Linked DNA regions of Homo sapiens. The protein of the gene in region 3 purifies or fractionates together with the protein of the main gene of each other region. This does not show direct contact. Each region holds a gene or a part of one and is shown on either strand. Other genes may lie near its edges.

Evidence for each region.
Region 1: the proteins of TSC22D1 (region 3) and XPO5 purify together in Homo sapiens (co-immunoprecipitation; one large-scale study listed by IntAct). This does not show direct contact.
Region 2: the proteins of TSC22D1 (region 3) and EHD4 purify together in Homo sapiens (co-immunoprecipitation; one large-scale study listed by IntAct). This does not show direct contact.

Annotation. Positions count from the first base shown.
Region 1 is NC_000006.12:43,548,505-43,552,158, forward strand, and holds part of XPO5 (exportin-5), read right to left. Parts: intron 2,950-3,654; coding exon 2,794-2,949; intron 2,508-2,793; exon of another isoform or gene 2,466-2,507; coding exon of another isoform or gene 2,464-2,465; intron 1,431-2,463; coding exon 1,389-1,430; intron 1,075-1,388; coding exon 985-1,074; intron 1-984. UniProt on the Homo sapiens protein: Mediates the nuclear export of proteins bearing a double-stranded RNA binding domain (dsRBD) and double-stranded RNAs (cargos). XPO5 in the nucleus binds cooperatively to the RNA and to the GTPase Ran in its active GTP-bound form.
Region 2 is NC_000015.10:41,916,997-41,920,650, forward strand, and holds part of EHD4 (EH domain-containing protein 4), read right to left. Parts: intron 2,627-3,654; coding exon 2,214-2,626; intron 1-2,213. UniProt on the Homo sapiens protein: ATP- and membrane-binding protein that probably controls membrane reorganization/tubulation upon ATP hydrolysis. Plays a role in early endosomal transport.
Region 3 is NC_000013.11:44,569,763-44,573,416, forward strand, and holds part of TSC22D1 (TSC22 domain family protein 1), read right to left. Parts: coding exon 3,401-3,654; intron 1-3,400. UniProt on the Homo sapiens protein: Transcriptional repressor. Acts on the C-type natriuretic peptide (CNP) promoter. Acts to promote CASP3-mediated apoptosis.

The DNA.
Region 1 (3,654 bases), on a different chromosome or scaffold from region 3:
TTTTCAAGGAGAGGTGGCTTACTCAAGGAAGAAAGAAGAAAACCAAAGCAGTCCCAGGAAAGTCAGGCCTATAAGGTTATTATTTGGTAATTCTGTTATATGTCTTTATTTTGCCTAAATAAGCAAGGCAATTTAGGCGGAAGATAGCTCTTGTCTTGAGTATTTGGATAACTGCACTTTCCCATACTACAACTGTGAAAAGATCAGCTTGTTTTATATATATATATAGATATATATGTATATCTATATATATATGGAGATAACTGCTGTGCATTCAGAGAAGAAATTTCTGGATAATTTGTAATCTGGAGTAATGTTAAATTTCTTATAACCCCATGCCCCAAAAAGGGTTGTGATTTGCATCTGCTTTTCTCAAGATCAGGCACATCATTTGGCAGTAGTAATTAAGATCATCACATAGTAAAGAGTTGTAGAATTATAGGGGTAAACTTAGTAATCTATATGGCAGAGAACTATTTGTATTTTGAAGAGAGATTACATTTGCCATCACATTTCTAACTATACTACTAAGTATACTAAGAAAACACCAATTCAAGAATGTTTATTTATTTATTTTTGAGATGGAGTTTCGCTCGTTGCCCAGGCTGGAGCAATGGCGTGATCTTGGCTCACTGCAACCTCCGCCTCCTGAGTTCAAGTGATTCTCCTGCCTCAGCCTCCTGACTAGCTGGGATTACAGGCATGCACCACCATGCCCAGCTAATTTTTTTGTACTTTTAGTAGAGACCGGACTTCACCATGTTGTCCAGGCTGGTCCCGAACCCCTGGCCTCAGGTGATCTACCCACCTCAGTCTCCCAAAGTGTTGGGATTACAGGTGTGAGCCACCATGCCCGGCCAAGGATGCTTATATGATGCAAAGCTATAGTTTCTAGTTTTTTCTTTATGTGAGGTACACTGAAAGCTGGATTTACACACAAATGTAACCAAACTTGGCTACTTCAGCCAGGGTCCAGCAGCTTACCAGCACAAGCTGGGGGTAGTCACGACACATCTTGATGATGGAGGAACAAGCATGCCTCCTCACATTCCTCACTGCCCGGGTTCTGGGGGCCTGAAAAGAGACATTCAACAAACTCGGAGCTGCTTTTAATATAATATACAGGTGCTGCATAGACTCATGTGAATATCTCAGTCAGGGGCAAATTCACAATGATTTTTCACAACCCTAAGAGTATAATGGAGTAACATTTATAGCCACCAAGAATCCATGTTTCTTGTATGCCCTATAGTGGCAAAACAACATATATGATAATCTACCACCCTTACTACCCCCTCCCATTTATATAAAAATATAAACTGAGTATCAGGTATTCATACATTTGTACTCAAGAAGTTAGAATCTATTGGTTTAATTAATGGTCTTACCTTACTTTCTTCAACAGTTTCAAAAGTGACAGATGAAAATAGCTAAGGGAGAGGAGGAAAAAAGGTCACTCATGTTTATTTGTTTTAGAGATGAGATCTTGCTATGTTGCCCAGACTAGACTTGAATTCCTGGGCTCAACTGATTCTCCTGCTTTAGCCTTCTGAGTAGCTGGGACTACGGGCATGAGCTTATTCATACTGTCCATTTTCTCAGATAACCTCTACAAGAGTCATCGGAGTCACAATTTTACCATCAAAACATTTTACAATAGGATCCCAGAACAATTCATGCCATCACCCAAGCACTTGGCTATGGAAACGCCTCTCTCTTCTTTTATCAAAAGTTGTATGGTCTATCCCTTCTATTCCATTTCATTATTTCCCATTTACTCCTCATTCCAATGAAATATGGCTGCTTACTTGGCCACTATTATGGAATTAAACTCAGACAAGAGTGTAGTCAAGAAACTCACTGGGCATTCTCCAACTCAAATAATTTGCAACAAATGAGCCCACTTTTCTGAAGTCCTACTGGTCTTGTGACACAACATTTTCTTCATTTCTCTGGCTCTTTTTCCTTCTGTGGGGGCTTCTCATTTTTTTCTCCACTCCTCCAATGATGGTGATTCACTAGGTTCCTCGCTTGACTCACATGTCTCCTAACTCTACATACATAATCACTTCAGTAAGACTTCACTTTTAGTCGTGGGACTACTATGATGATGATGCTTTAATTTTATCTCATTACTTTCTAGAGTCTAGATCTTCAACCTCAAATAGCCAATTTATTGTGAGATGTCTCCATAAAGATGTTCTACATATTCTTCAAACACAGTATTCCAAAATACTCATGCTTTCTCTTCTTTAGTCCCGTTCTCCTTTGTGATCTGGTATTCTGACTCAGGGAGTGGCTCTATCACCCACCTAGTCAACTGAACTGGAAACCTGGAAAGTGTTCCTTCCTCTCATAAATCCCCTCCCTGCCCGACAGCACACTCTAATACTCTCCTTTATACAAGTCTTCATTGCAATGCCATATAGGTAACATTAACTGTTTTTGTGCCTTTCTTCCCAGAGTGTTCCTAAAGAGTGAGGCACTAGCATGGTACCTGATCCACAGTAAGTACTGAGTAGATATTTAATAAATGAATAAATAGCTGTGTTTATTAGTTTGCCTCACATAATTTTAAAAATAGTTACAAAAATAATTAGCCTAGGCCAGGCATGGTTGTGCATGCTTGTAGTCTCAGCTACTCAGAAGGGTGAGGTGTGAGGATCCCTTGAGACTAGTAATTTGAGTCCAGCCTGGGCAATGTAGCAAGATCCTGTCTCCAAAAAAATAAAATAAATAAAAATTAACTTAGAAATGTCAAAATAAAATTTACAAAGGAGATGGGCTTTATACCTTAGAGAAGACCTGGGGCAGGAACTCTGGTCTGTAGGTGACAAATGGAAAGAGTGCAGAGACATTAGTAAGGACGCAGGACAGGATGAGGGGATCCTTGGTATCAAAGTTCAGAACCATCTGCAATAGCTCTATTCCATCATTAACAGGAATTTCCTGTAACAAAGACATAAAACAGGTTGACAATGGCTGCCTCCACTTAGAAATAACCATTTTGGCTACATTTTATTTTCATCTTTTAAAGAGACAGGGTCTCATTCTGTCACCTAGGCTGGAGTGCACAGTGGCACAATCATCACTCACTGTAACCTCAAACTCTTGAGCTCAAGGGATCCTCCTGCCTTAGCCTCCTGAGTAGCTAGGACTACAGGCGGGCACCACCATGCCTGGATACTTTCTAAAATTTTTGTAGAGATGTTGTAGAAGTGTTGTTATGTCGACCAGGCTGGTCTCAAACTCCTGGTTTCAAGTGATCCTACGGCCTCAGCCTCCCAAGTAGGTGGGACTACTGGCACGCACCACCATGCCTGGCTAATTTTTTAAATTTTTAGTAGAGATGAGGTCTCACTATATTGTCCAGGCTGGTCTCAAACTCCTGGGTTCAAGCATTCCTCCCATCTTGGCCTCCCAAAGTGTTGGGATTACAAGTGTGAACCACCGTACTCAGCTGTGCGTGCCCTTCTTACCATCTTCTCAGCAGTGTATTATTCCCTAAAACCTCTTAAATTTTGTATTTCTTCAACTGATCAAGAGGCTGAATGTTTTTCATATTTATCAGCTACTTTATTTATATATCACTCTTGGTTGCCCAGTGCAATGGCACGATCTCAGCTCACTGCAACCTCCACCTCCTGGGTTCAA
Region 2 (3,654 bases), on a different chromosome or scaffold from region 3:
CCCAGGCCGCGCTGGCCCGTTCAGAGGGCCCGAGGCTCAAGGATGGCAGGGAAGCTCTACGGGTTAAGGCGCTTGGCATTTCCAGCGAGCTTTCTGCTCCTTATTTATTTATTTATTTATTTATTTATTTATTTATTTATTTGAGACAGAGTCTCACTCTGTCGCCTAGGCTGGAGTGCAGTGGCACGATCTTGGCTCACTGCAACCTCCACCTCCTGGGTTCAAGCGATTCTCCTGCCTCAGCCTCCTGAGTAGCTGGGATTACAGGTGCCTGCCACCATGCCTGGCTAATTTTTGTATTTTTAGTAGAGACGGGGTTTCAATATGTTGGCCAGACTGGCCTTGAACTCCTGACTTTGTGATCCACCCGCCTCCGACTCCCAAAGTGCTGGGATTACAGGCGTAAGCCACCGTGCCCGGCCTCCTTATTTATTTATATGACTGAATACAGCAGCATCTCCAGTCACTGGGTCTTCATTTACCAATAACTGGTAAATGAAGAATGTCCATGAGCATTTAAAAATAGTTTTAAAAAATCTCAAAATCTGCAAAGGCTATGACATGAGTCACCAACTTTGGTTATAAACTAATGTGGGGTGTCACACACCTTGAAGGTTGTTCAGTTGTACCTGCTGGAGAAAGGAAACACCACAAACCAAGGGATCACCGAGTGGAAAAACAGCCTTCCTGCTACCAAGCATTAGGCCCAGGACAAGGGCGAGGGCAAAATCATTTCAGGAGAGCTGCACGTAAGTGGATTTACAAACTAGTTAGCACATCTGCCTTGCAGAACTGGAGCAAAAATGGCTTGTAGCTCTGGAAAGGAAGCCACTTGGACCAGGAAGAACAGATAAAGAAGGATGACTCACACAAGCACCACACCACTGCAGGTTAGCTGAGCCATATGGGAGGAATGCATGCACACGCACTGGGACACACGTGACAGAGAGGGACACAGGACATCGAGGTCCTGTGTGAGGGGCAGCAGCAGCCAGGACGGTGTTTGTTTTCACCCAGGCAAGAGGCTGCCCAGTGAGCACACTGGCACGAGGACAGGCTGCTAATGAGCAGCAAGAAGGAGGAAGAATTGTCCCCACCTTGGCTGTCCCCATCAGGGAAGCCCTCCCTGCCTCCTGGCCAGGCACGTAGTCACCCTTCCCAGAGCACTCATGGCAGCATCCATACCATGACTGGCACATAGCCAATCACCCAGGGAGCTTTACACACACACACACACACACACACACGCGCATGTTTACACACATGCATATTCACACAAGGCCATGTGTGCACGCACACCCCTATATCCGAGGCTCTGGGGCAGGGCCTGGGAATGTATGTTGCTTCTGATGATCAGCCAGGTTTGAACTTCACTAGGACTAGATAAAACTCTAAAGGCACTTCCAGCATTAGAGGACAATGATTTTATGAAACATGCACATATTTTTTAAAGAGCCATTTTTTTCTCTGTATTTTCTCTTGGAGGAGGGATATGCTTTTCTCTCTTTGGAGACATGAATTGACTCTGTCACTTGAGGGATGTCAGCAGGTCACCTCTCACTGCCCCATTGGGCACACACTCCTGGGGCTGCTGAAAGGCTCAGCTATGAGGCAGGCGAGCCAGGAGCCCAGGCATGCAGGCTAACAGCCCGCAGCCCAGAATGAGGATGCGGGGGTGACCCAAAACCAGCACACTCCAAGAGTAAGACTGAGCCATACTTCTTCCCAGGGCTCCCCTGGATCCAGGTGGTAACACTGGCCTTTGGTGCACGGGGACTAGCAGTGGCCTCTCAGCATCCTGTTGGTCTCACCAATGCCACCTCTTTCAGGTTTGGTTGGTTATATTCCTATCGTCCTGACATCCTAACAGCTACCATGTAGTGGGTGCACTGATTGATCCCCCTCCCTGTGCACCAGGCACTATGCCAAGTGCTCTGTCACACTGACCAACTGTCACCCCAAGTTCTTGTGAAGTGCTCTTATTAGCTCCATGGTACAGATTGGAGAACAGGGTTAGTCATCTGCCCAGGAGTGCAGAGCCAGGAGCTAGGGTGTCAGCAGGGCCACCTGACCTCGAGGCTGTATTCTTAACCTAGCGCATGTTCATTCCTTAAGCCTTCTGGAACGAAGCCTCCTCCCACCCATCTTGCCTCTGGAGAGGAGACAGCAGAGTCCCAGCCCCTGGCCTCTGTGCAAGGCATCTCCTGGCTTACCTTGGCCAGCCTCGCTCGCTTGATGAGGTCGTTGAGCTTGCGCACCGCTGCCTTCTGGGGGAGGCTCTGGATGTCTCTAAAGAGGTCCTGGGCCTCAGCCTCGAAGAGCCGGCGGTTGTCCGTGTTCTGCAGGGGCTGCGCCCAGAAGGAGCCAATGTAGACGCGCAGTACCTCGGGCGTGTTGATGACCTTGCCTAGGGACCACATGAGGGCCCCGTAGACCCGCATCAGCTGCTGCGTGTCCACTTGGTCGGCCTTGTTCAGCACGACACGGATCTTGTCGTCCTGGCCCCGGAAGGCCTTGATGGCCTCTGAGAATTCATCTGAGATGTCCAGCTTGTGAGCGTCAAAGAGCAGGATGATCCTGTCCACCCTCTCGGCAAACCACTGCAGGACCTGGCAGAAGTCATAGCCTGGGTGGAGAGAAGGACACGTCAGTGTAGCCACTGCTGCAGGAGACACGTTTAATGGGCGGCTCAGGAACAGTCTCGCTCTCCAGCAGCTGCCAGGGAGAGAGCCCTGTCTCCAACCTGGAGGCAGTGGAGGCCTGGTGACATGAAAATCACGGGCTGGATGAATCCGGGTGGGAAGGACCTGGGGAGCCCTTCCACAGGAGGAGGGAGGAAAGAGAATGGGGCTCATGGTCACTTTGGGAATTGCTGACTTTCATATCTGCGATTTCATTTAGTCCTCATGAGTGTTTTATTTCACCTAATACAGACCTTTTGCTTGATGGCAGAATTGATCAATGGTTTTATAAAAACACAGGCCATGGGTCAAAAGATCTTACTTCTGAAAAGTCTCACTTTTCTGAAAGCCCCAAATACAGAAGAAAGAGAACCAGAGGCCACCTGGCATCCCATGGGGGTATCCAGTAAGCATAACAGAAGAGGCATCGCCTTCAATTAACCCAAGTTTGTAGAGTGCTGAGGAGGTCAAAGGTTGGCCCAGCCAGTGTTGTGATCAATATTTATCTTTGGACTATTTATAACTCAGGTATATTGTGAATATTTTTTTAACATTACGTATCACAGCCATTGTGTAAAATGGTCTCTTGCCAATTTCTTTTTTTAAAATGGCCTGGCCCACAGCAAATTCTGTCCAGCCTATTCTGACCACCTCCACAAATCATGCAGCTGCATAAACACTCTTCAGCCCAAGGTCAAGGCTCTCAGGCCTTTCCCCAGGGAGGCAGATTCCCACGAAAAGCAAACAAGAGGAGGCCAAGCCCACAAAGTTGACTTTTAATCTCAGTCTGACTAGTTGCAGAAGCAGAGTCTCAATCCAGCCCAGCTAGTGCTGAGATGTCACCTGCCTGACCCCCATGCTAGGGGTCGTCTCCCCTCTTCTTTTAGATTTTGAAAACTTTCAAACATACATAAACATCTGTAAGTCATATAATGAATGCTGATGTACCTACCACATAATTTTAACAAATGTT
Region 3 (3,654 bases):
AATTATATGATCCTGCATCTCTCACAATTGTGCTTAAGATGAGGGACAATATAAACTTTAAATCATGACAAAAAAAAAATCAGGAGAAATGCCTGCTAATTAATTCAAAAAAATAATTCATCCCTGCCCTTGAGGAACATCTAGTCTTGTGGGAAAGATTGGTAAACATAATTATAATTGAATGTGTACAGTGCTTAAATAGAGGAATATTAAAAAGTGCTAAGGAAACAATGTCCCCTGAGTGAAAAGAATGCTTTAAAGAGAACATCTGAGCTGAGTCTTGAAGGATGAATAGAAGTTTGACCCATTTCACGTTAAGAGGCTGTGCTAATAACAATCACAAAACATAAAAGATGCAATACCTGTATTTTCCCATTCTTGTAAAGGTGAATTCACAGTTCATGTTACAGTCTAAGACATTAAGACTTTTTTTTTTTTTTTTTTTAGAGACAGGGTCCTGGTCTGCCACCCAGGCTGGAGTGCAGTGGCATGATCCCAGCTCACTGCAGCCTTGACCTCCAGGGCTCAGGGGATCCTACCACCTCAGCCTTCCAGGTAGCTGGAACTACAGGCATGCGCCACCATGCCTGGCTAATTTTTGTATTTTTTTGTAGAGACAGGGTTTTGCCATGTTGCCCAGGCTGGTCTCAAATTTCTGGGCTCAAGCAATCTGCCCACCTCAGCCTCCCAAAGTGCTGGGATTACAGGTGTGAGCCACCGCACACGGCCTGACATTAAGACCTTTTAAATAAGAATGATTTTTTTTAAAACAAGATACATAATCTTAGCATCCTGATCCATGTTTATAGTCTCTCCCAGTGATCAACTGAAGGCACTTTCCACATGTCTAAACATTTTATAATCTAAAGTGTTAAGAGTATTATTTCAAAAGATGATTAAAAGATAACCATCCTCATCTGTCCTACTGCCCAAATTATATTGTTAACACATTTCCTGATTCATAATATTGAAATTATATATGTATTCCCTCTCTCCTGAGACTAATGGTGACCAAGCCCAGAAGATGCAAGTGACAACAGAAGCTACCATGGGAAGAAAGGTTTTAAAAGTTTGTTTTTTAATCATATCACTGTTTTCTCTTGTAGTTATTCTTAAATTATCTTCCAAGGGCAAATTTAAATGAAAATTAACTTTTTTCCAAACTGTAGTGATAAATAATCTTCAGTAAAACACAATAAAGAATATAATATATATCTTTTCTGATCTTACAAGGTGTTTTAGGGCTACATTCCGATTTCACAGAATTTAAGATACCGCTAAAACAAAAATTTTCTGGTTTTTAATCACGAAACTTTGATGTTAACTAACCAAGGCCCAAATAGGTAGTAAATTCAAAACAGTCCCTGCTCTTGAGGAACTCCTGGTCTTGTGGGAGAGACTGCTAAACATAATTATAATTGAATGTGTACAGTGTCTGAAGACAACTTGTATTAGAGCTATATTTCCTTATTTCTCAGTATGTCTTTTTGTCCCTTTCTAGAATTCCATAATTTCCACCTTATTATTCCTTTTCTCAATTATTATCTGGAAAAATTAATTTTATATTAATATCTTAAACTGGGACCCTATTCCTATAGTTAAAACTCTAGTTGAAAGTAGCATCATCTGACTTTAATTGCCTGGAAGGGCAAGCTGTGGAAAATCCTATCATGTCCTACCAATAGGAGGAAAAAGAGGTGAAAGTCAAGCCAGGAGACCACAAATGGCAATTACAAAATCATGGCAAGTTTGAATTCAAAATGAGTGTTTTTGTTTGTGTATTTTACCCGTCTTTTGTTTCTCTAAACTTAGCATCCACATAATATAGCTGTTTTTATAGAGGCTTCACTCAAATCATAACCTTTTGACTTAAAAAACATTAATATTTGTGGTAATTCTTTTAAAATTAGTTGAGTATTAGCATGATAAAATTAAAGGTTTAACAATAATAATGGAACAATTAAGGAAACTACCTCCTAAAAGTTTATCTTTTAGAGTACAGTTTTGTACAAATAATACAGAATACATTTGGTTAGGTAACAAGGTTTTAATTACCTGACTATTAGAAAAATAATAAAAATCTTGAAAGATAAGATTTTATCAATTTAACCATGTCTTTATCTTACCTTTTAAACAACTAAATAACACAAACCTCACTGAAACATTTGACCTGTTTTCTTTTTCTAAAATTACAACTATTTTGCAATATGCTCAATTTTTCCAAAGCAAAACCCACAAACATACATATAGAATATAAATGCTTAAATTCGCTTGATGAAAGTTCAATCACAAAACCCTCCAACTAATACTAAAATAATTAAATATCTTGCACGCTTACTCCAAATTCCACCGTGAAAATGATGTCTTTTCATAACTCCTATAATAGCATTTTAATCAAGGTTAGTAACAGACTGGAAAATTTGTGAAAAGAACATTACTTTAAAAATCAACATGAAAGATTTCACAACTTTTTTAGCCAGTCAGCTTCAAAGACACAATTTGATTCAATAAGCGTTACTGGCATATTATTTCCAATCTACGTGAAAAAACGCTTGGTTTAATAATGTACTTTAGGCTTTCTGTATCTTTTTGGTAAGGAAAGAAAGGAACAGGTGGAGTAGATTAGCCAGAGACCAAGGTCTTATTTTCACGCCTCTATAAATTCAATCCTCCAAGACTTACTTTCTCTGTTCTTTAAAATGGCTACCACCTTGATCTACCATGCAAAAGAAAAAATGTTCAGCATACTATCAAGATAAGTCTGGTTATTTTGATAGTTTATGTCCTCCTTTCCCACAAAATAAGATTCCCATTCCTTTACTGTTCAGATAAAATGACCATTAAATAAGTACGCAAAAGTTGGTCAGTTGGAGTATGAGGGCAACCTATATAACCCAGATTAAGTCATCTTTCCTACCATATCTGACTAGGAAAAGTAGGCAACAATATCTTTCACAGACTAAGATCAAACACAGTAGAAATGAAAAAGGGATGTCTAGTAAAGGAGAACAAACGTGGGAACCACAACCCCCCAAGAGATTATTTTAGCAGCTCAAAATAGATTAACTATTATGTGGGTTAGCAAAAATTAAGCTTTCCATAATATTTCTAAAAAGCATTTTAGAGATAATAAAACCACTTGGCGCCCCCAAACCTGTTTTTAATGTGAACACATGCTCAACAACTATTCTGAAAATATTGTTTACATATTACTATTATTTCCTACTCCCTCTGAAACCATTCCATAACTCTTGCTCTATAAAACTTCCCATAAAAATGCATTTTTCACATACAAAACACAATATACAATGTTTTAGAGTCATTTTGTGCATACATATAGCTACTAAATAGATTAACTTCAAATCTGTTGAATGTCTCCAGAAATATGACATGATCTTACCTCTCATCCTCGCCATCCACCAGGGGTGTCGTCAGCGGTAGCACCTTCAACGGGAAAAGAGAAGCAGAGGCTGCTAGGCTGCTGCTACTCCCATCTGAAACTGCTGACATTCCCCCACTGTCACCACTGATAGTCTGAGGTAAGCCAACTAAGGAGGGCTCCGCTGCACGCCTGGCATCTTCAATTTGGCTTCCAATTGCCTGAGCTAATGATTGTGCGGAGAACTGGGTAGAACTTAGTGGTATCTGTTGTGC